3 linked regions of the Homo sapiens genome follow. The protein of the gene in region 1 interacts with the protein of each later gene in a biochemical or structural test. Each region holds a gene or a part of one and is shown in the gene's direction. Other genes may lie near its edges.

What was found. The genes of interacting proteins can lie anywhere in the genome.
Region 2: the proteins of PELI1 (region 1) and PRKCQ form a complex in vitro, tested with the Homo sapiens proteins (one study listed by BioGRID).
Region 3: the proteins of PELI1 (region 1) and UBE2N form a complex in vitro, tested with the Homo sapiens proteins (2 studies listed by BioGRID).

What each region holds. Positions count from the first base shown.
Region 1 is NC_000002.12:64,099,186-64,106,871, reverse strand, and holds part of PELI1 (E3 ubiquitin-protein ligase pellino homolog 1), read left to right. Parts: intron 1-2,041; coding exon 2,042-2,171; intron 2,172-2,274; exon of another isoform or gene 2,275-2,315; coding exon of another isoform or gene 2,316-2,318; intron 2,319-6,372; coding exon 6,373-6,474; intron 6,475-7,686. UniProt on the Homo sapiens protein: E3 ubiquitin ligase catalyzing the covalent attachment of ubiquitin moieties onto substrate proteins. Involved in the TLR and IL-1 signaling pathways via interaction with the complex containing IRAK kinases and TRAF6.
Region 2 is NC_000010.11:6,577,083-6,585,674, reverse strand, and holds the start of PRKCQ (protein kinase C theta type), read left to right. Parts: upstream 1-5,398; 5' UTR 5,399-5,464; intron 5,465-8,592. UniProt on the Homo sapiens protein: Calcium-independent, phospholipid- and diacylglycerol (DAG)-dependent serine/threonine-protein kinase that mediates non-redundant functions in T-cell receptor (TCR) signaling, including T-cells activation, proliferation, differentiation and survival, by mediating activation of multiple transcription factors such as NF-kappa-B, JUN, NFATC1 and NFATC2.
Region 3 is NC_000012.12:93,410,754-93,418,439, reverse strand, and holds part of UBE2N (ubiquitin-conjugating enzyme E2 N), read left to right. Parts: intron 1-7,140; coding exon 7,141-7,387; intron 7,388-7,565; coding exon 7,566-7,686. UniProt on the Homo sapiens protein: The UBE2V1-UBE2N and UBE2V2-UBE2N heterodimers catalyze the synthesis of non-canonical 'Lys-63'-linked polyubiquitin chains. This type of polyubiquitination does not lead to protein degradation by the proteasome.

The sequences.
Region 1 (7,686 bases):
ACTCTAGATATTGCGGTATGTTTGAGAGTCAGGTTGTTAAAGTGAGAATGCGTTGTTTCAGTTGAGATAGTAAGAGAAACTGGGGAAATCATATGGAGTTACTGAGCTTGACTGGATGTTAGGAATCCTAGAATCCGGTGCTTGTTCAGCACTGCTAGCTGTGTGACCTTGGGCAAGTCACTGAACCATCCTGGGCCTTAGTTTCCTTGTCTGTAAAAATGACAGATAAGATCATCTAAGGCCCTTTGAGACTTAAAATTCTTTTCTCAGAAACAAAGCTTTAAAAGATCATAAATTTAGCATAGTAACTACAGTATTAGAACTTCAAATCACATAGATTTTAATGGTATCAATGACAAACAGCTCTTAACTACCAAAAACTTTTCCAGATTAAATTCTTCTAGCAGGAAATTTGAGAGTCATTTGAAGAATAGTTTAATATTTAGCTTAGGGTTTTAAACCGCCAGTCTTAGCCTATGGGTTCCTCAGTTAATCATTAGCAACAGTAATTGTCTCTGTGTCTGGTACTTGGTGTCTTAAAATGCAGATAATTTTTCTTCTCAACCCTCTAGAAGTGAAGCTGGACAAGGTTTCATGCTGTTGCTGCTTAGAAAAGAGCTTTGAACTACAGGAACGCAATGTGGGACTAAAGAGCAAGATCCAGAAGTGGGATGAGTCATGCAACTCAGAGGACAGTAGTGAAGGGGCAGTGAGGAATCGACAGAGGGTCTGGGGGCAATACAAAGCCTAAAATAGCTAAAATAATTATTAGCTAAGGGGCTGTACTTTGGACTTACAGCAAGGCTAGCAACATTACCAAGGGCTTTCTCCAATACAAAGTATTTTATTTTTTATAAAGGGTCAATGTAGTTTCTATATATGGCAGTCATTGAGTAAACTCTCTTCTCAGCTTTAAAACATTCTTCCTTGCCAGCCACAATTACAGGCCATTTTATAATCACTTCCTCCTCCAGCCTCAAAACTGTCCCTGTTCCCTGCTTCCTTTCCCCCTAGATTGACCAACTACATATGGTAGATCATCAAACCCAAGATTTGTCAGGGGGCGGGGGCAGGGGAGGTGGACGGTGAATGAGGAAAGATTATTATTAAGCTACTGCTCATGCCTCAATGAAGCAGTAAAGAATGACATAACCACATGACAAACATACTTAAATTCAAATTCTGGCTTTGCCAGTGTCACTTCAGAATATAATTCTTCTGAGTCTGTTTCCTAATGTACAAAAATGGGGACAGTGATTTCAATCTAGTAGAATTTTTGCAAGGGTAGATTTAGTGAGGTGATGTGTATGGGATAGCATTCAATAGTGCCTGGTACATAGTAAACACCCAAATATTTTTATTTTGTTTTTAACTTGTTTCCATTGGTTTAGTACTTGCTTACCTTTAGGATGTATATGTGTGTGTGTGTGTATGTGTACATGTTATGGAGAAATGGTCATAAGATCTGAACAACAAAAGTATGTTTACTACTTAGCAAACATGTCTGTTGGACAGGTTCTGCTAACATAATGAGAGTGCATTTGTACATTCAGGTAGCTAAGACTTAACAAATCTAAAAATTCCTTACTTCAAAAGTTCAGCTATTTAAAGTGTTTGGTTCACAATTAAAGGAGATTGTGTTTTAAACAATACATACTGTACTTTTTAAAGGTTGTATTAGCACATGCAAACAGTTCACCTTAAAAAAACAGAATGAGTCATAAGGAGTCAGACATGCCATTAATCAGCTCTTAATTATCTTCCATAAAAGAGGGAAGGAAAAAAATAGAGATAACACGAATCTGTGTATAATCCAAAAGGTTCTCTGTGACTTGGAATGAAGCCAGAAAAAGAATCTCATTTTGTTTCACACACTGGCACCTGGTATGGAGATCAACAGTTGCTCAAAGGAATTTTAAATAATTATAATGTGTTAATAGATAATTAATTGGGAATTGATTCTGCAAGGCAAAGTCAAACATTTGTTTTATAATTGTGCAGTTCTTGCAAGAGATCACCTATACTTTTTTTCCCCCATCAGGTATAATGGGTCTCTCCCAAATGGCGATAGAGGAAGGAGGAAAAGTAGGTTTGCTTTGTTTAAAAGACCTAAGGCAAATGGGGTGAAGCCCAGCACTGTGCATATTGCTTGTACTCCTCAGGCTGCAAAGGTAAAAAAAAAAAAAAAAAGCTACATAAATTAACTTGGAGAATTTGAAAGACTTTTATGTGTTGTTTGTATTCTCTAGCATTCCCCTTACATTTCTATTTCAGAAATTGCCTTTTGTTTGGATTGGAGAAGAGACTTTGGAGACATGGTATTTGAAGAGCTGCCATATGGAAGGGGAATTGGACTTTTAAAAAAAAAATGACAAACCAGGATCAGTGGGTGGAAATTAGAAGGAAACACTCTGTTTCCTTATTAAAAGAGGTGGGATGGGGGACAGGGCTTTATCTAGTACTTAGAATTATGCAGCTGTCTGCCCTGAGAAGTGGGAAGTTCCCACTCTGTTACTAGAGGGGTCTCCCTGGACTGGATGAAGAATGTGATGTATAATATGTGTATTCAGGTATTAGAAGCACATTTGGATGAGGTAATTTTTAAACTAAGGGTCTTTACTTAAGATTCTTTGTATTGGTTGTATTCATTTTTGGTTTATAACTTCATATATTTGAGCATAGTACCTTGCACAAAGTAGACCTCAATAATTATTAAGTTGAATCAAAGCTATGAAGGCAATATCCAACTGCATCTACAATATAACTTCTCAACCCCCTAGCCTATTTCATGCTTCTAGCCCCCTTGTATTCTTCTAACAAAATTTCCAGAAGCTGGACCACCATTTCAGGATACTTGGGCTTTTCCTAGAGTGACAGACAAGGAGGGGGAATTTCACATCTTTATATTTTCTGTGAATTCATCTGCCTCCAATTTTATAACACTGACTTTGTGTTACAAAGAATTTAATATTGTAATGAGCAAATAAGAAAAATTAGAAAGAGTTCTTTGACTCCTGGAAGTACCTGTATCTTTAGCTAAGTAGCCCTAGGATGTACATTAATATTATACCATCTGAAGCATATCTTTGTAAATTAAATAAACAAGAGACAGAAAAATTGGCATATGATGTGGTTTTAGGTTGCAGCTTCAGTGTCTGAAGGTAATTGGCTTTTCAGCTTTGTTTTATATCCAGTTTGATTTGTGAAAGAATCCTTAGGCCTTGACTAGGACTCCTCTGTTACTATTTGGGAGCCAGTTGGTGCAGAAAAGGGACAGTTTCTTTTTGCTCCTTTGGCGAGAAGGAATATACTAAGCAGGTGGTGGAAGTAAACCTCAGATTGATTGAATCTGAGGAGCTTCTTACAGTAGCTCCCCCCGGAGTGCTCTTGACATTTTGGGTATGCCACTTTTTCATTGTTCAGTACTTTCCCACATACTACAGGACATTTATAGGTCCTTCACCCACAAAATGCCATTTGAGCCTGCAAATCCTCGTAACAGCCAAAAAATGCACAGCATATTTTCAGATGCCCCTTAGACTGCTAATACTACCTCTGGTTGAAAACCACTATCAGGGAAAATATTTCTAATCCCTGCCTCTGTAATACCATATTCTGTACTTTTCTTCCTATTTTACTCTGCCATGCCCTCATGTTTTCATTGTTATCTCTTTTTCATCTTTCATCTTTACTAGGCAATAAGAATCTTAGGGATCACAGATTGACTCTTGGCTGGGTGCGGTAGCTCACACCTATAATCCCAGCACTTGAGAGGCCAAGGTGGGCGGATCACTTGAGCTCGGGAGTTCGAGACCAGCCTGGGCAACATGGTGAAACTCCATCTCCACCAAAAATACAAAAAATTAGCCAAGCGTGGTGGCATGCCCCGAAGTCCCAGCTACTTGGCAGGCTGAAGTGGGAGGATCACTTGAGCCCGGGAGGCAGAGGCTGCAGTGAGCTGAGATCATGCCACTGTACTGCAGCCTGAGTGACAGAGTGAGACCCTGTCTCAGTTTAAAAAAAAAAAAAAAAAAAAGATTGACTCCTCCTCTTTAAATTTTGGAGGAATGTATTTGTGAGGTCATGATGAAAATTAAGCATTTAGTCTGGCAGTCATCTGGGATGAGTAGTTAAAACCCTGCGTTCTAGGCCAGTGAGACTCAAACGTAACTTGACATAGTTTTTATTCTCAGTCTTAGAGTAGGTTTAATAACTAACAAACAAAGATTACAATTTCAAAGCACATAAAAACCAATGTTTTAAAATCTCTTTAGCCACTAAGAATTAATTTTCAAAATACTGAGTAATTGTTTCATTGAAAAGTGAGCTGTTTAACGGGGCACAGTGGCACATGCCTGTTAGTCCCAGCTCCTTGGGAGGCAGAGGCAGGAAGATCACTTGAGCACAGGAGTTTAAAGCTGTAGTGTGCCATTTTCCTGCCTGTAAATAGCCACTGCACTTCAGCCTCTGCCACATAGCGAAACCTGGTCTCTTAAACATATATATATGTATATGTGTGTGTGCGTGTGTATATATATATGTATATATATGTTTAAAACTTGTAAAACAATTATATAGTATATATGAATACCTAAATGTGTAGAAAGAAATATGTAAAACATGCATGTAAATGATCTACACTGCATTCTTGAGGTTGGATACCTCTGTAGAGAAAAGGGAACTGGGAGAGACATGTAGGCAGCCTCAATTGTATCTGTAGTTTAATTCCTTAAAAAAATCAGACGCAGGCCAGGCACAATGGCTCACGCCTGTAATCCCAGCACTTTGGGAGGCCGAGGTGGGTGGATCACGAGGTCAGGAGTTCGAGACCAGCCTGGCCAACATGGCAAAACCCCGTCTCTACTAAAAATAAAAAATTAGCCGGGCGTGGTGGCATGCACCTGTAATCCCAGCTACTCAGGAGGCTGAAGCAGGAGAATCACTTGAACCTGGGAGGCGGAGGTTACAGTGAGCCGAGATAGCACCACTGCACTGCAACCTAGGCGACAGAGCGAGACTCTGTCTCCAAAAAAAAAAAAAAAAAAAATCAGAAGCAAAAGTGGCAGTATTAAGCTTTGATAAAGCTGAGTCGTTAGTATAATCTCTTCTATATTTGGAAATAGGGTATTTCTGTATTCTCTTTGTATATTTGGAAATTTGACAGTCTTAAAGCTGTTGTTTTAAGGCTTTATCTATTACAGATTAGTTGCAAATTGAAACCAAGTAAAAGCTTATGATGCCAAACTTCTAATTAAGAAGGATTTTTTCATTTAGCTTCTTTGCTGTATATAATTATTCTCTTCTTTGTGTCTGTTTTATGCAGCCCATTTCTACTTCCTTTGTGTGATGACTAGATTTTTCCCCTCCTTTGATATTATCTTCAACTCATATACATAGAAAACACTTGAAAACAAAACTGAAAAGTTCTTTTTAGCAATGTTTTTAGTTTGAGATAAATCAGAAGTACAGTCATAAGCATTACATCCCTTTCCTTTGGTAATGTTTAATCATTCTATGAATGTTTCTTTTGTTTTTTTTTTTTAAATTTTTTTCTTTTATCTCCTGGGACCAAATCCCAAATGCATTTTTCTGTATCTCACCCAGCATATGGCCAACATTTGTCATCTGTAGAGTCACAAAATGGTTAGAAAACCAGTTAACTTGGCTTATGAGTGAACTTTATAGCTCTCTGAATGACTTCAAAAATAAGATTCCTCTTATTTTGCAAGATTTTCTTATCAGAGCAGTACTATTGTTTTCTGTTTTTATGTGGGATTTGGTTTTGATTATAATTTAAAATACTTAATAAGGGAGTCTAGTGGTTTGATAAAAGAAAATTATGGGCCGGGCGCAGTGGCTCACGCCTATAATCCTAGCACTTTGGGAGGCTGAGGCAGGCGGATTGCCTTAGCTCAGGAGTTCAAGACCAGCCTGGGCAACATGGTGAAATGCCGTCTCTACTAAAAATACAAAAAAAATTAGCCAGGCGTGGCAGCGTGCACCTGTAGTCCCAGCTGCTTGGGAGGCTGAGGTAGGAGAACCACTTGAACCTGGGAGGCGGCGGTTGCAGTGAACCGAGATTGCACCACTGCACTCCAGCCTAGGCAACAGAGCAAGACTCTGTCTTTAAAAAAAAAGAAAGAAAGTTATGTTTTTATTCTGTAACTGCTTCTAAATATTCTTCAGTACCCCATTCAACCCGAGAAACTACTGTCACAGCTGACAGGAGTTATTAACCTCTCTAAATTTCAGGGGGAAAATGTATAAATATGTCATGTATTTGATAAATAGTTTTCCCTTTTTTTAATGAAAAGATTATCTGATTGGATTGACCTGCCTACTAATTTTTGCTATTAACTTTTTCATTCTTAGGCAATAAGCAACAAAGACCAGCATAGCATATCATATACTTTATCTCGGGCCCAGACTGTGGTGGTTGAATATACTCATGACAGCAACACCGATATGTTTCAGGTATTACAACATCTTAAATTTTTTTTCTTAAGAAACGAAAAAGTTAAAAATCTATTGTTGGTGACTTTTGCTGAGGTCAGAGGATTATCAGATTTTTATATTGTATTTTATTAAAATATAGATTGATTGCTAACCCTTATAAATAGAAGTCAATCTAGCATGGTTGAGATGGGCTCCAGAATAAGAATTACTGGTAAATATTACATAACCATTATATGCCTCAGTTTCCTCCTCTGTAAAGTGCAGATAATAGACTCTCCCCTATGACTGTTAAGAGGCTTAAATGATCTAGTACATGTAGAGTACTCAGCACTGTGCCAGGCACTTAGTAAAAACACTTAGTGAATAGTAGCTATTATCCAAAAAAGAAAACAGTAAATACTCTGCATACATTTATGACTTTTTCTACCACTACCTCCCACCTTCCTCTCTAGACAATAAACAATCCAGGCACTTGCTAACTATTTGTATTATCTATGTGAAATCAAACCTTTTTCTCAGCATGTATTTGGTCAATGCTACTCATGCAATAAAAGTATTTTTCTCTTACTTTTTGTACCAATCCAGTGCTGATATTTTATAAACTGATAGATTTTAGGACAGTCAGTTCCAAAGATGTAAATAGAATCCTTGATCTTCTCCCTTAATATTGAGCTCTCTGAAGCTTAGGCTTTTTAAAAACAAACTTAAGTACAACATAAATTGCCTGATAATGTTGCTTTTATAATTATTGTCACATTGACTTCCATTTTTCTTTATTTTACAAGGCAAATAAAAGTGAAAAGACCTGGAAATATATTTAATTTCAGTCAATAGTGAAATATTTCTTTGAAGCCACTCCCTCTGCCCAACCCTTTTAATGAGATGAGATACTGAATTTCTTTTCTCTAGTTAATATTAGAATGTGGGCATTTATTATGTTTTCCTCACTTTTACCAAAAATAAATAAGATCTTTAAGGAAGATTAATGTTTAGATCCAAGAAAAACCGAACACAAAGCTTTAGGATGATTTTTCACATTTTGTTTCACTGACAAGCAGTGAAAATGAATGAGCTTAGCTTTTTTTTAAAATCAAGATGCTACTAGGCCTGTAGTCTCAGTTACTCAGGGGGCTGAGGTGGGAGGATAGCTTGAGGCCAGCCTGGGCAACATAGTGAGACTTCGTCTCTTTAATAAAATATAGATAAATATATATGTGTGTGTGTGTGTGT
Region 2 (8,592 bases), on another chromosome or scaffold:
CAAATCCAGGAGAACTGTGTCTGTGGATCTTTAGAAATACTTGGACTGACTAGTTTTATGCTGGTTCTACCCTTAGAATCCAGAAACAGGCCAGAAGCATATCCTGTTAACTTGTATCTATGTTAAGAAAACATTGAAAATGTAATTATTCACTATCTGATTTAGAAACTGATGTTACAATTAGCATCTCTGTATTGGTAGTGGTAACAACAATGACAACAAATTGTACCCATAGAATTTCCACAGCCATAACTAAAACCAGATGGCAAATACTGTTTTTATAACTCCCACCTTTAAAAAAAAAAACCAAAGGAACCGTTTCTTGTTTAATTTCATTCTTTGATAGTTGTAATAGTAATTGACACCGAGGAAAAAACAATCTACTCTAAATATTCTACACAGTAAGGATTAAATTTCATTTTCTATGGTTTTACTATTTAGTGGGCATTGTGATACATTCTAATCTACACATTGCCCCTCTACCCATGCCTTGTCTTTTGTCCTCAGAATATCTTATTAATCAGAACTTTCATAAACATACACAATTCTTTGACTGTTTCAAGAGTCAGGCTATATTTTCAGCTCTTGTCTTGTTTCTGTGAATATGGTGGCAGAAATCATGGATTTGAGGGTCAACTGGACTGGTGTCAAGCAGTCCCCTACCGTTTATTAGCTGAATGAGCTTAGGAAATCATTTGTTTAACCTTTAAGTCTCAATTGTCTCATCTGTAAAATGAAGAGGATATTATCCATCTCAGGGGATTCATTGTTAGAATCAAATTAAATAATTGAAATTAAGTGTGTAACACTACGCTTCGACACAGGTAGTAAATGTACGATAAATATTAACTAATATTCACACATTATCTTTCTCTTAAATGAAGGAATAATACATACTTCCCTTCCCTTGTGTAAGATTTTTTGAAGTAACTTAACATTACAAAGCATGTCTAATGAATATTTTAAATAATGGAACTTTCAAATATATATTATGAACATTTTTTAAACCTTAACCTAGGGTAAGGTTTCCATTCACCTTTCACTGGTTTCGAAGAGTTGATATCAGTTTTACTATCAACAGTAATTGAGGTTTATCACTCCCCAAGAGGAGGGTCAGTTTTTTTTTTTTTTTTTTTTTTTTTCAGGGTTTAGAGCTATTTTCTGGCAATAACAATTTCTAACTTCTAATTACCCTTTTTCCGGCTTGAAAATCTAAAGTTGGATTGAAGAAGAGAAATGACAACATCTCCCTTTTACTTATCCAAGCTGTGAATTTAAAATACCTTTCGTTTTTGTTTGTTTGTGCCTATCAACTTTGACCCATAGCTCCCAGAATAATTTTGATATTTTCTGAATAAATTGACACTAGACTTTATACATCACTCATGTCTTTATTTAGGGTAGGCCACTGTCCTCTAATTCCATACTGATTCTTCTGGGTACTCTGGTGAGCCACTCAAAAAACAATTTCTGCCAAACCTTTGGGAAAGTATCAGTGGTTTGGTGGCCAAATTCCTCATCAAATAGTGCAAACTGGTTTCCTCCAAGCTGTGACTTCTGCAGAGACAGAAATGTCCTTGTTAAGTAACACTGTCCTCAAATTTTCTATGTGTATCATAGCCTACTTCCTCCTGAATACTACCTTTCTCCAAATCAAGACTCAAAATAATATGTTTTCTTTTTAATTTCTATCCTAAATCCCATATAGAAGGAAGGATGCAAGACGTGGTCTCCATGGGAGACAGAGTATAATCACCAACTAGGTCCAAAAGAAAAGCAAAGTCGTGTCCTGGGTTCCTTTTTCCAAGTTCCGAGTTGTGGGAAGATGGGTTGTGGCAGCTCCGGGAGCAGACACATAGGATTTCCTCCTTCCTCAGCTCTCAGGAGGGCCGCTGGATCCAAGGCAGGGGTCAGGTATTTCCGAGATGAAGTGAACTGAATAGGGCGGCTACCCGAAAGGCAGTCCTCAGCATTATTCCAGGAAACATCAGGGCAGAACCTGAAAGAGGAAAAGAAGTACACAGCTGAAAGTTAGGGTGTGTTTAACGTAGTGAGTGGAACCTCACCGCCCACGTGTCATCCCCTCCAGGAAATGCCATTTCCTCTTCCAGGAAACAAAGGTGTGGAGAACTTCTGAGAGCAGCCACGTTTATATAACTAAGAGACAGTGTCTAATAGAAAACAGAAACACCCCATGGCCTGGGAAAGGAGATGGCGGGTCTACAGGATGCTGGCATCAAGAATATCTAGAGGTGTCCACTACACCTAATGGATACCAAGAACAGATGTGAATTTTTTGTTTTAGATGAAATTTTACGATAAAAAAATCCCAATTTTGTAGATATATGATGGATGTTGTTTTAAAAGATCTGATCTTCAGGTTAACGGGTTTCCTGTTGTAGGACTATACGATTATAGGACAATTGAGTAGCCAAGAGTCCTCAAAGATCAGTTGTCCAAAAGAGAAAGAAAGAGAAAACTGAGTGTACGATGTAAGAATGGAGAATTGGCTGGGCGCAGTGGCTTATGCCTGTAATCCCAGCACTTTCGGAGGCTGAGGTGGGCGGATCACCTGATGTCAGGAGTTCGAGACCACCCTGGCCAACATGGTGAAACCCGTCTCTACTAACAATACAAAAATTAACTGAGCATGGTGGCAGGCACATGCCTGTAATCCCAGCTACTCAGGAGGCTGAGGCAGGAAGAATCACTTGAATCCAGAAGGCAGAGGTTGCAGTGAGCCAAGATTGTGCCACTGCACTCCAGCCTGGGTGACAGAACAAGACTCCATCTCAAAAAAAAAAAAAAAAAAGGAGAATTAATTATTCAGCAGCTCTTGAGATGGTGGCTCCAGCCTGACCTGGGTTTGAATCTTGGTTCTGGTACTTTAGTAATTGTGGGATCTTGAGCGAGGTACATAACCTTTCTAAGCCTTGTTAGTCTCTTCTGTTAAAGAGAGATGATAATGATGATGATACATATCACATCAGATTATGAATATTATATGAGTAGTGCGTCTAAAGTCATCACAGGCTGGGCATGGTGGCTCACCCCGATAATCCCAGCATTTTGGGAAGCTGAGGTAGGAGCATCACTTGAGCCCAGGAGTTTTAAACCAGCCTGGGCAACATAGTGAGACCCCGTCTCTACAAAAAAATCTTTTTAAATATTAGCTTGGTCATGGTGATGTGTGCCTGTAGTCCCAGCTATTTGGGAGGCTGAGGTGAGAGGATAACTTGAGTCCTGGGGGATCAAAACTGCAGTGAGCTATGATCACGCCGCTGCACTCCATCCTGGGCAACACAGCAAGACTCTGTCTCAAAAAGAAAAAAAAAAGTCCTTATCATACCTGGTGTATATATGAAACTTTTTCTAAAGCCACTAACTACTGATTAAATTAACAGGACATATGAGCTTCCTTTCAGTGCCTAATTGTCAATGAGAAACCCAGATATGGAGCGTGAGGAATCTACCATCTTCTAGGCACAGTAGCTGTTATCCGTTTGCCATTTCTTCTTTGCACTGTAACAGGATCCGCTGAAAAACAATTGGAGAAAGAGCCAGATGGATGGCAGTCTGAACTAGGGAAGCTTCTGTTTTGTAGTTTGCAGAAAGAATCTGCATGGGGATCACTGCTTAAGCTTTGCCTCTTTGTTTCCAGACACAGACGCACTTTCCTGCCTAATTTCCATAGCAAATACCCAATGAGCGCCTACTGTATGCCAGGTTCTGATGATGTCAGAGTGAGCCAGCACTTCCGAGGTACTGGCCACTCTCAAACCTCCTGGCTAGGATCTTCCAAGAGCTACAGCCTCTGGCCTGAGGGTCAGTCCAATGCTGTTAGATATTGACAAATGCGGGGCTAATTTTAATGGAATATAGTTTTATCCTTAAAAGGTGTGTGTGTTTTGGCTTTATTTGGGTTCATATAGATTAGGGGCATCATCATAACTCGCTTCCTAGTGCAGACCTGAGTGATTTAATCAAGTCTTGAAACACTTCGGGGCCTCAGTTTTTCATCTGCCTTCCCAACCTCTGAGGTTCTTTTTAGTTGACATCCTACATTCCCATGATCAGAAGGCTGCTAATTCAACTTTTGGCTTTTGTTAAACCTTTTTTTTTTTTGAGGCAGAGTTTTGCTGTCACCCAGACTGCAGTGCAGTGGTGAGATCTCAGCTCACTGCAACCTCCTCCTCCCAGGTTCAAACGATTCTCCTGCCTCAGCCTTCTGAGTAGCTGGGATTACTGGCACGTGCCACAACACCCAGCTAATTTTTGTATTTTTAGGAGAGACACGATTTTGCCATGTTGGCCAGGCTGGTCTCAAACTCCCAGCCTCAAGCGATCCACCCGCCTCAGCCTCCCAAAGTGCTGGCATTACAGGCATGAGCCACCGCACCTGGCCTGTTTTGTTTTGTTTTAATCGTTTTTAATGTCTCTCTCAAAACAAGAAAAGAAAAAAGGACAAAAAATTACTATTTTACTTCTCAGATTAATCTGATCTTAGTACACTACAGCAACAAAAGTCTTAATCAAGTACGTTTTAATTATTTGGTGTCATCATTGCAAGGAAACCATTCAGTAAGAATATTAGTAACCAGACATATAATTTTCTAACCTGAATGAGAAATTAGTTACATGGAGTATAGAAAAAGAAACCACCCCGTTTATCCTCCCTGTGACCATCATTAGTATTACCCGCAAGGCATAAAAAGTCCTAAAATGACACGCACGGCGGCAACATTACCTTTGCAGCTTCAAGCACAGTAAAGTTGAAAGCAGTCCCACCTTGGCAATTGTGTATAAAACGACAATGTGCAGATACAGGAAAAGTCCCAGGTCCGAAGCCACCTAGGAACGATGACCCCAGGACAGAAGTGTGCCCAAACAAATGCCTGGGGTAGGTCATTTTAAAAGGAACAATGTTTACAAGCCCTTTCTAGCGTGAAAAACAGAGAAAAGAGACCCAGCTCTTTCCACCCAATCTGCTGGAGCGCCGTTTCGTTTTCAGTTGGGCGAGAGGGAGACATGTGGCCTCTCGCCCCTTTTCCTGACTCTGAGAATGTGGCCGGAGCCGGGGCGCTCCTGCTCCGCCTCGCCGCCCTCCCGGGGCTGTCCTGGGCCCTCCGGCCGCCGCCTCCCGCTCCAGTTCGCAGCTGGGCGACAAGTGGCTGGTAAGGAGGCCAGGGGCGGGAGCCTGGGCGCGGGACCGGGGGCGCACGGCGGGGGACCGAGCGCGCGTCCCTGGCTAGAGGTGCCGGGTCCCGGGAGGCCGGGCTGGCGGGGAGGCTGGCGAGCGCCCCCTGGCGGGCACCGCCTTCTAGGCGCACCCGCAGTGCGCCGGGCCCGCCAGCCCCGCCAGCCCCGCCAGCCCCGCCAGCCCCGCCAGTCCCCGCGCAGTCCCCGCGCAGTCCCCGCGCAGTCCCAGCGCCACCGGGCAGCAGCGGCGCCGTGCTCGCTCCAGGTAGGGCCCCGCGCCCCGCGCCGCCGCCGGGAGGGAGCGGGCTGGAGGGGCCGAGACCCGTGGCGAGAAGGGCTACCCGGGCCCCTCGGAGAGCCTCCGGGAAGGGGTGAGGGCTGCCGGGTGAGCAGGCGGAGTAGGAAATGGAACCAAGCGGGCGCAAGAGCGCACCGGGAAGAATTTCCCCGCTGGGTTTCTGGGACGCAGGTCGCACGGGATGCGGGATGCTGGCGACCTTAGCCGGGTGGGGGCCGCCGGCCTGGGGGCGCTTCCTCCTTTCTTCTCCCTTTTCCTTCTCACCTGAACGAAAGGGGGCCTGCGGGGAGGGAAGAAGGTGGAAAGTTTTTGTATTCTTGGTAAAAAAAAAAAAAAAAAATGCGTGAGGAAACATGTTTTCTGGAGATGGTATCCTGTCCACAGGGGAGCATAACCCCTTTTCTGGGAATGTATTGGAGCACGGACGGGGGTGCCATTGCTCAGGCTTCTAAACAAGCCAAGTTTCTGGTCAAGGGCCTGGGGGAGGGGGAGGCAGGTCTTTGAAAGATACCAAAAAAAAAAAAAAAAGAAAAATCTGCGTGCTCATTCCTGTAGCCTCAAGTGAGGTTATTCCCCAGCTTTGAGGGCCAGGTTAACCAAGCAAAGTTTGTGCAATAAAGTATCTTTGTGGTATTGGATTTTCGAGAGCCACCGTTATCAATGGGAGAGTGACTGTTGAATGCTACAGGCGTGTGCACTCCCCCGTGGGCATGAAGAGAGGTCCACGGGCTGGCTGGATTGGGAGACTCCGGTCATTTCTGCAAGGAGAGCGCCACAGGACTGCCTTGTTCCCTGGGCTGTCCTGCCCCTGTGCGGGCTGGACGTGGTGCTATAAAAGATGATTCAGGAGTGGCACAGGCTGAGGGGGACTAGGCTGGAGAAGGTGGAGGGAAGAGGGAGCACTCCGTGCCCTCTTCCTGTCCATGGGAAATGAACCATCTGTGCCTGGTGTCCAAGTCCTTGACGTTCCAGTTGCCCTTTGAGAGCACACCTCAAGCCTGCTGAATTCTTTTAAGAACCACCTACAAGATCTGAGAAGTCCGCCCATGCTTTCTGTCAACTCCGGCCTCTTTGACCTTTTCTTTTGCCAAAGAAAATTCTAAACCACTGGGATTCGTGAGGCTCCGTGAGAGAGGCAAGAAGCCTGGAGGGTCCACTCCGTTGCTCTTTTCCCTTGGTTTGCTCCCTAGAAGCCATGGTCCCCACTGGGCCCTTCTTGCCCGAGGCTGTGTGATAGACAAGCCCTATTCCTAAGGTCCTGGGTCCCCCACCCCACCCCACACCCCGACCTTGTGAATCATCATCTTCATATTTTCCCTAACTTATCTTTGGTAACCCTTGTAAAATGGCAGGCTTACTGCGGATGCTTAATCTCTTTTAAAAGTGCTGTGTCTAGCGGGAAGAAGAGTGACATTTACTAATATGGTTGCAAATTACTTTTGAAGTTTATGCACAGCTGTTTAAAATCCCTCTGAGATCAGTGCCATTGTTTGATGCAGGTGCTTACCGCAGAAGGCTCTTGTTAGTCCCTTCCTCCTGCTGATTGAACATACATATATTTAAAGACGTGGCGTAGGGAGAGCTTCTAAAACCTGCAAAGCCAAAGCTGCACAGCTCCTGCAAGTTAGCGATCCACTCTAAGTTTTTCAGTTGTTGTTTCTGTCTTCTTGCCTCTCATGAACTTCTGTTTCTGATTTCAAGAGTAACCTGCTGGGCACCATCAGCCTTTGTTTCAGTGACCTGCGATTTTCTTCTACACTTTAAAAATGTCAATATCCAGGCAAGACTCTTGTCACCCACCATCCGCGTTGTCATGTTCATTTCCGCTACTGTCTTGTGCTGTGGTGCCTCGGGATGGCAACTGTTACTTGAGGAGCTAACTTCTACCTCTGTTCTCCTACAGACATGTCCTCATTGCGTCTTCGCTCACCATACACGGTGCAGCTCCTGGAAATTTGATTTGTTTTGCTGTCTCACTTCTCCTTCAGGCAACAAGGGGATGGTGTTCGATTATTCACACCTCAGCTCCTTCTGTAATCTCAAAGATCCCTTTCAACAATAATACTCTCTGTCTCTTGTTAACGCCAGGCATCAGAAGCCCCCTTACATAGCCGGCTTGTCACTGGTCATTTCTATAAAGTATTCTCATTCTAACACATGCTGTCTCTTCCGTGGAAAAGACTAAATTCTTCTCTGCAATGAATTAGATGTTTTAACCAAAATTCCATGTGGACTGGGTCCAGAATTTTCTTTCAAGAGTATGGGCTTGTGGTACAAGTATGTAACTTCGGGGATTCAGAAGTAGACCTACACAGACAAATCTCCTTATAACGTGTTATTTAATTATGGTATATTTGCCTTTCTGGAAATTAGGAATTAGAGTTAGTACTTCCTGTTTTTAATGCATTTGATTGATGTCTTAGAGTTGCTGATTATGTTGTTGCCCCTAAAAATGTTGCTAATGTGCTGGTTTGTTAACAAGGTTATATTTGATTTCAGGTGATTTCCTTTTTATGGAGTTCAGTCTTTAATTTTTTTCAATAATTTGCCTCAAATCATTTAAAATGATATATTGTTATATAATGAAAATCCCAGCAATATAGACGTGATTCCGTGTGTGTGTGTATGTGTGTGTGTAATCTGTAATTTAAAATAGAGAAATTAGTATTGTGACGGCATACATAGCATTAAACTCATGCTTGCTGTTTCTGTTGTTTTAACACTTTAAGCAGCTCATTTCTAAGCAGCTATGTGTTCAGCTCAGCTTTTTCATACCTATTCCAATTGTTAAGGAAGAAGTCATGAGAAACTATAGAAAAATGTGATGTTGAACCAGAGAGATGGATTAAAAGCTGTTTCCTTACAATGGTGAAAATATCTTTCATTATTTTAACATGCCAAGCATTTATACATGTCAAATTCTGATTGCTCTGTCATCTAAACACATTCTTGGGGACAAAATGAGCATCAGAGTTTTAAAATTAGGAAAGCTCACTCAAGCCCAGAATCATAGATTTTTGCTCCTGGATTAAATTAGCAAGTATTTGGCAGGACATCTTTCTGCAGGTTGCTGTAGGTTGATGTTAGCTTTTGAA
Region 3 (7,686 bases), on another chromosome or scaffold:
AAATGAAGCAAGGGGTATGCACTTGAAAATGTCCATTGATGATAATTAACTTTTTGTTTTGTTTTGTTTTGTTTTTAAGAGACAAGGTCTCACTATCGCCCAGGCTGGGGTGCAGTGGTATGATCACAGCTAACTGTAACCTTGAACTCCTGGGCTCAGGCAGTACTCCCACCTCAACCTCCCAAGTACGCTAGGACTATAGTCATATGCCAGCATGCCCAGCTAATTTTTTTAGTTTTTTGGTTTGCAGAGATGGGGTCTTGCTATGTTGCCCAGGCTGGTGGTAACATTTTTTAAATGCTCACTTATTGGGCCAAGTGTGGTGGCTCACGTCTGTCATCCCATTGCTTTGGGAGGCCAGGGCGGGAAGATTGCTTGAGGCAGGAGACCAGCCTGGGCAACATAGAGAAACCCATCTCTACAAAAAAAGTGATAAATAAAAATGCCCACTTATATATATAGAGGGTGAACTTGCAGATTCTCATAAGTAACTTACAGTTGTGTACATAATGAAGAATTGACTTGCTTTATTAGTGATCCCAAAAAAGGAGCCCGTTTGTTTTATCTTACAAATTTTTCATAATTTTTTTCTTTATTTAAATTTTTTTTCTATAACACACAACTTTGTCCAGAACCCTGTTTGTTAATATTTTAGAATCGCTTAAAGATGTAGTGACAGGTTGGAGTTTACAGAGTAGGTATCATTGAAGCATCACTCAGTTTTTTAACACTTATTTTTCAGTAATGAAATTGGCAGTTACTGAGTTATCAGACAGCTCTTGTTTGAGATGAGCTAAAAGATCTACAGTTGATATTACTGGTCATATATTGCAATTTTGTGTTTCAGAGAATATTCTAAAAAACCTAATCACTGTAGACAGGATGCACTGGGATATAGATAGTTACTAACTGGACCAACTTTTCTCACACACAAATTAGCACTTTTTCTAAGAATACTGTTTATTACCCCAAAATTTTACTGTACATACTCCAATCATTGCCTTGCAGAAGAGCATCTAAGACCTGTCATTGCTTCGTACTGAGCACAAATTATTTTTCAACTTAAAAATAAGAGTCCTGGTTAATAGAGATAGGTTGACAGAATGTCAGTTGTTATAATTGACTAACTACAGTATAGTTTACAGTAGTGTGAGTCTAGGGTTTGCTCTTCAAGACCCAGTAGATCTGTTGATAATTAGATCAATTTGATGTGATATTTGATTCCTTTTAAAAATATTTGTAGCATTAACTATTGTATGCGTTCTATAAGATGAGATACCTTCCTTTAGACTTAATTTTGTGGACATTTAAATCCATACCCTATTCCTTTACCAACTTACCTGTCTATTTTAGTAACTAACTTCCTGAACATAGTCTACATTAACTAATTTCCTGAACATAGTCTACAGTGCTTTCTATTATGCATGGCCCTAAACTCACTTCTGTTTGGGATTCAATCCTTGGACTGCTTTTAAACATAATAGAATCACAAAATTCATTTAAGGGTTATTCTGTTTTTCTGTAAACAACTATGGCCTTCCTATGTGATCTCATTTGTCAACTTTTTTTTTTTTTTTTTTTTGGTAGTGATGGGGTCTCACTATGCTTGCCCAGCTTGGTCTGGAACTCCTAGCCTCAAGTGATTCCCCTGCCTGCCTCAGCCTCCCAAAGTGCAGGGATTACAGGTGTGAACCATGGCATCCCACCTGCAATGTAAATTATTTGTGCCAAAAGATAGATAAGGCCGGGCGTGGTGCCTCACGCTTACAATCCCAGCACTTTGGGAGGCTGAGGCGGGCAGATCACTTTAAGTCAGGAGTTCGAGACCTGCCTGGCTAACATGGTGAAACCCTGTCTCTGCTAAAAATACAAAAATTAGCCAGGTGCTCACTTGGACCCAGGAGGCAGAGGTTGCAGTGAGCCAAGATCGTGCCACTGCACTGCAGCCTGGGCAAGAGAGCGAGACTTGTCTCAAAAAAAAAAAAAAAGATAGATAAGTGAAACAGTAGGAATTTTAGCCCTTTACTTCTTCACTTAAAGAAATCATACTGTACTCTGTCTTTCCACCAAAGAATAGTGTAAAACCAGAAGGTATTTTAGTTAGTCATGTGTTGAATAGTGGCCGGAAAGATTTTATTTCCTAGCCAGTTTTTGCCTTTTTAGGAAAAAAGTTGACATCAGTTTCTGTGGTTGAGACTTTTTCAGATGCTGCCATTTCAGACTTGTTTCATTTAGTTTGGATTTTATTCCTTTTTTCCCCTCCCACAGTTTATGCTGTGGGTTTGTTAGGGAAACCAACAGTTTAGTGAAATAATTATGCATGTTTTTGTGTCAGTCCATTAGAACTTGAGAGCAGCATATATTATAAGGACTATTTCAAAATGTTTTCTACACACGAAAGCTTATTTTAGAATGTGTTCCAATTAAATCTAGGCTTGATCAGGTCACATGATGTGCTTAATATGTACATTCTTTACAAAGAATATCTGATTTTGAGGGTGAACTGAAGATGAGAAAGTAAATGCCATACCTATCTCTGCCACTGTGTATTGAGAGTGATTTTGAAGCTATTTTGGGATACGCTTTTGGAGGCCTTTCTGTAGCTTTTTATAGTAGATACAGAGCTGCTACTACTTTGTGTAACTGGTGAGTGGTGGATTGGGACTCTTGGGCCCTGGCTTTCTTTTTTTTCCAGTCACCCAATTTATGGCTTTCTAAAAACATGAAGACCTGGGGTAAAATTAAAGGATGGAGGTGAGGAGAGCCCAGAATTCAAGGAATTTTACCATCCAGTTATTTTCTCATTTTTCTACTCCTGCTATTCATCCCTAATATCTTAACTTTTTTCCTAAAAAATGAAGACCAGCCTCTTTTGTTCTGGTCACATGTTAAAGGACTTCCCAAGGTCAGAGGCTTCATTATTGCCTCTTGAGCTTTTTAATACTCTAAAAATGTTTTAGTTTGAACCTAAAGAACATGTCAGTTTCTCACTTGCTCTTACATCGCCATGATCAAAACAAAAAACTAGTCTTAAAATACCAGAGACATTACCTAAAATGGCCATGGGTTTAATTAACACATTTTGGGGAAGCATTTGATTTGTATTTACATCTTATGACTATTTCAGTATATTACTGTGCTGAGAGAGAAGTTATTTGTTGTTGTTGTTTTTAACGTATGCCCTGTAGCTTGTGGAATGAAACAGTTTATGATGTATTTTTTTTTAGGTGAAGGCAGTGTAAATAAAATGTTCTCATTTATTGTTTTTCATACCTAAAAGCTTATTTAAATATGAACATTTTTCTGGTTAAAAATAAATATAAGTAGAAGTTAGACTATTTTTCCCCATACCTGAGTGGCTCCTTTTGTTTTCCTTCCATAATGTGCACATCCTGCCTTGAAAATAACCCTGCCTTAATGATGTTAACGATGAAATTCTGATCGTTTATTTCCCTCTTTTCATAACATCAAATAGATTCAGAATTCAGTAAATATTAATTGAATATCTATTGTGCCAGGCAGTGTTCCAAATGCTGAGGATATAGCAGTCCATAAAATAGACTCAAATCCATCCTCTCATGGAGCTTAAATTCTGAACAAAATAAGTAGAAATGAGATTTGTTAGTAGTGCTGTGGAGATAAAGCCAGGGAGTGGGGATAGGGAGTGTGCAGGGTAGGGTTGAATGGGGTTTGCAATTTCAGTTATGATGGCTTCACTGAGAAAACATGAAGATCTTAGGAGCTGAGGGAGCAAGCCATATGGATATCTTGGGGAGGAAGAGGAAGTACAAAGCCCTTGAGGTGAGCGGATGCCTGGCACGTTGAAGAACTACAAGGAAGCTAATTTTTGTCTGGAACAGAGAAGGTTAGGGGATGGAGAGAGAACAGCTGAAGATAAGTCAGAGAGGTAGGTGGAGTGAGGGCATCATATAGAGCGTCTTTTGGGGGCCCATTACAAGGACTATGACTTTTTTTTTTTTTTTTTTTTTTTGAGACGGAGCTTCGCTCTTTTGCCTAGGCTGGAGAGCAATGGCATGATCGGGGCTCACCGCAACCTCCACCTCCGGGGTTCAAGCGATTCTCCTGCCTCAGCCTCCCAAGTAGCTGGGATTACAGGCATGCGCCACCATGCCTAGCTAATTTTATATTTTTAGTAGAGGTGGGATTTCTCCATGTTGATCAGGCTGGTCTCGAACTCCTGACCTGAGCCGATCCACCCGCCTCGGCCTCCCAAAATGCTGGGATTACAGGTGTGAGCCACCATGCCCAGACTTTTTTTGAGATGGAGTCTCGCCCTGTCACCCAGGCTGGAGTGCAATGGCACGATCTCAGCTCACTGCAACCTCCGCCTCCTGGCTTCAAATGATTCTCCTGCCTCAGCCTCCCGAGTAGCTGGGATTACAGGCACGTGCCACCATGCCCGGCTGATTTTGTATTTTTAGTAGAGATGGGATTTCTCCATGTTGATCAGGCTGGTCTCGAACTCCTGACCTGAGGTGATCCACCCGCCTCGGCCTCCCAAAGTGCTGGGATTACAGGCGTGAGCCACCGCACCCGGCTCAGGACTATGACTTTTAAAGGGTCTGTGGATAATAGACCTGCGAGGGAGGTAGTGAGGTCAGAAGCAGGAAGAACAGGTTAGGAGGCTGTTGTAGTATGCCAGGTCAGAGCTGATGGTTGCTTGGATCAGAGGTGTAGCAGTGGAATGGTGAGAAACAGTCCAATCATGAGTAGAATTTGAAGTATAAAAAAAACCAATTTGCCAATCAGGCTAGATGTGTGTGGCATATGAAGGAAAAGGTGGATCATTTGGAAAGATGGGTTTGCCAGTAACTGATGTGGGGAAGACTTTATGGGAGGAGCAAAGGTTGGGGATAGGGAGGTCATGTTAAGTTTGGGATGCTTATTAGACATTCAAGAGTGTATATCAAGCAGGTAGTTATAGAGGCAAGAGGCACGATGAGGGGAGAGGTCTGGGCTAGATATGAATTAGGGGAGGCTTCAGCTTATAGAGTGTGTTTAGTATTTAAATTCATTGCATTACATGAGATCACTGTGGAAATGTATAAACAGAGAGGAAGCCCTAGAATAGAGCCCCAGTGCATTTCAGTGTTGCGATGTTGGGAGATAGAAGAAACCAACAAGGAAACTAAAGGAAGCTGCTGCCAGACAAGGAGGAAGAGAGCCATGAGAATGTTTATAGGAAGTTAGATAAAGCTTTGCAAAGAGGAAGGAGACCAGCTGGATAAGATGTCGCATTTAGGTAAGATAAAGATTAAGCACTGGACATTTGATTTAACCTTGTGGAAATCATTGGTGACCTTAACAAACAAGTTAGCGATAACTACAGCTTGATTGGAGGGTATGTTCAAGACAGAAGAGGAGGAGAGAAATTGGAGACAAGCAAAGTAGAGGTTCCTCTTCAAAGACTTTCCTCCCCATCTAATTAGGAATAAATAGTAACTTCTCTTAGAAGCAAAATTTATTCGAAGACCTGTGCAAACATTCTTAAATATTTGCTAGCCATAATAAAGAAATCAATATACTTTATGTTCTTAGCTCCCACAATTTAGCCTAAATATTTGCCCTGGCATGCTTATACTGGTCCAAGCAAGCATTAGGTCATAGCCTGTTCCTCTTCCTTATTTAAAAGTGTTTTTACCTTTCTCAGCATTCCACAAGTTACTTCCTCCTTCCTTTGTTCCCCTCTACCTTTACCTCTTTTAAAAAGTTCTAAGTTGCTAGCCAGTCAGGACAAATACAGAATGTGAGATCCCGTTCCAGCCAGTGGAAACCGGACACAGCAGTAGGGTGGACGCGTCAGGTTATAAATGACCCTGTCTCCTTTGTTCAGTATACTCTTGTGGCAAAACTCCTGGCGAGTGTACCCTTTCTGCAGGAAGTAAAAATGGCTTTACTAAATAAATTAAATTTATGTTCAAGTGCTATTTCTTTATGGTACCGAAGAACAAACATTTCAGAGATCAGTAAGATCTAGTGCTCAAGACCGATTGGCCCTAGCCAAGAGTACGTGACATTTCATCTATACAGGAGAAAAACCAGAGTGTATGGGTGCAGATGCAGGGAAATGTCCAAATGCTACAGTGGGAACTGATGGAAGTATCTAACTTGTCATGAAATAGGAAGCAGGACATCAGCCACAAGTGAGGATGGGGATGGAGATGCTGGAGGTTTGAAGAGAGAAGAGAAATAATAATAATACAATTATTTAGGGGAGAGGGAGAATGATGAAAAAGAGAACTAATGGTATGATTGTTGGGAGTATTAAGGGTTCCTCTGAAGTTAATTGTCAATTTTAGAGTAATCAGCATTGTTAAATATATTTCTTTAGTCCTGTTCAGGTACCTGGGCCTCTTCTTATCTCCTTTCTTTAGTCCGTTACATTTTTCAGAGGGGAGGTTTTCAGTGGGTTTAAAAACTAATTTTTGGCCGAGTGTGTTGGCCCATACCTGTAATCTCAGCACTTTGGGAAGCCAAGGCGAGCAAATCACTTGAGGCCAGGAGTTCAAGACCAGCCTGGCCAACAGGGTGATACCGTCTCTACTAAAAATACAAAAATTAGCTAGGTGTGGTGGCGCACACCTGTAATCCCAGCTACTCAGGAGGCCGAGTTGGGAGGATCACCTGGGCCCAGGGAGGTCGAGGCTGCAGTGAGCCAAGATCTTGCCACTGCACTCCAGCGTGAGTGACAAAGTGAGATCTTGTCTCAAAAACAAACAAACAAGCCAAAAAAAACCACCAAAAAAGCTAATTTTACTTTTTAAATAGCTTGGTTTTGGTTGAGTTTAGAGCAAGTTGCCTTACTTATGTAATCCTAATGTTACTTTATTTTACTTGAGTAAAAAATCAGTTTTATTAAGCTAATTTTATTAACATATTTGTAGACATTTGTAGCCAAAATGTATGATAACATCATTAGTATTCGCTTGCAGTTTCATTCAGCTGGTTGTAATTATTTAAATGGTATTTTTTTGAATTTTGCATTTTATAAGCTAAATCTGTTGGGAGATTGGAGCTGTTCTATTATGCGTAGTTCTAAGAGATGAACTTTCTAATTTTACTTTTGGTGTCTAGCAAAATGACATTTGTTTCACAAATGTGTTTGTTTTTCTGTCATAGGAAACCCAGCGTTTGCTGGCAGAACCAGTTCCTGGCATCAAAGCCGAACCAGATGAGAGCAACGCCCGTTATTTTCATGTGGTCATTGCTGGCCCTCAGGATTCCCCCTTTGAGGGAGGGACTTTTAAACTTGAACTATTCCTTCCAGAAGAATACCCAATGGCAGCCCCTAAAGTACGTTTCATGACCAAAATTTATCATCCTAATGTAGACAAGTTGGGAAGAATATGTTTAGATATTTTGAAAGGTAAGTGTTATCTTTATCAGCATATGCTATTATTAAGCTTTCTCCTTTTTCTCTTAAGCATTCCATGTTTAGAATGTAAACATTATACAAAGATCAGAGAGGTCTGTGGGAGGGAAGTGAAGCAGTTCTGGGCCTGTTTTTTTCATGCTTTATCATACTGGGCCTGTTGCCTTCATAGATAAGTGGTCCCCAGCACTGCAGATCCGCACAGTTCTGCTATCGATCCAGGCCTTGTTAAGTGCTCCCAATCCAGATGATCCATTAGCAAATGATGTAGCGGAGCAGTGGAAGACCAACGA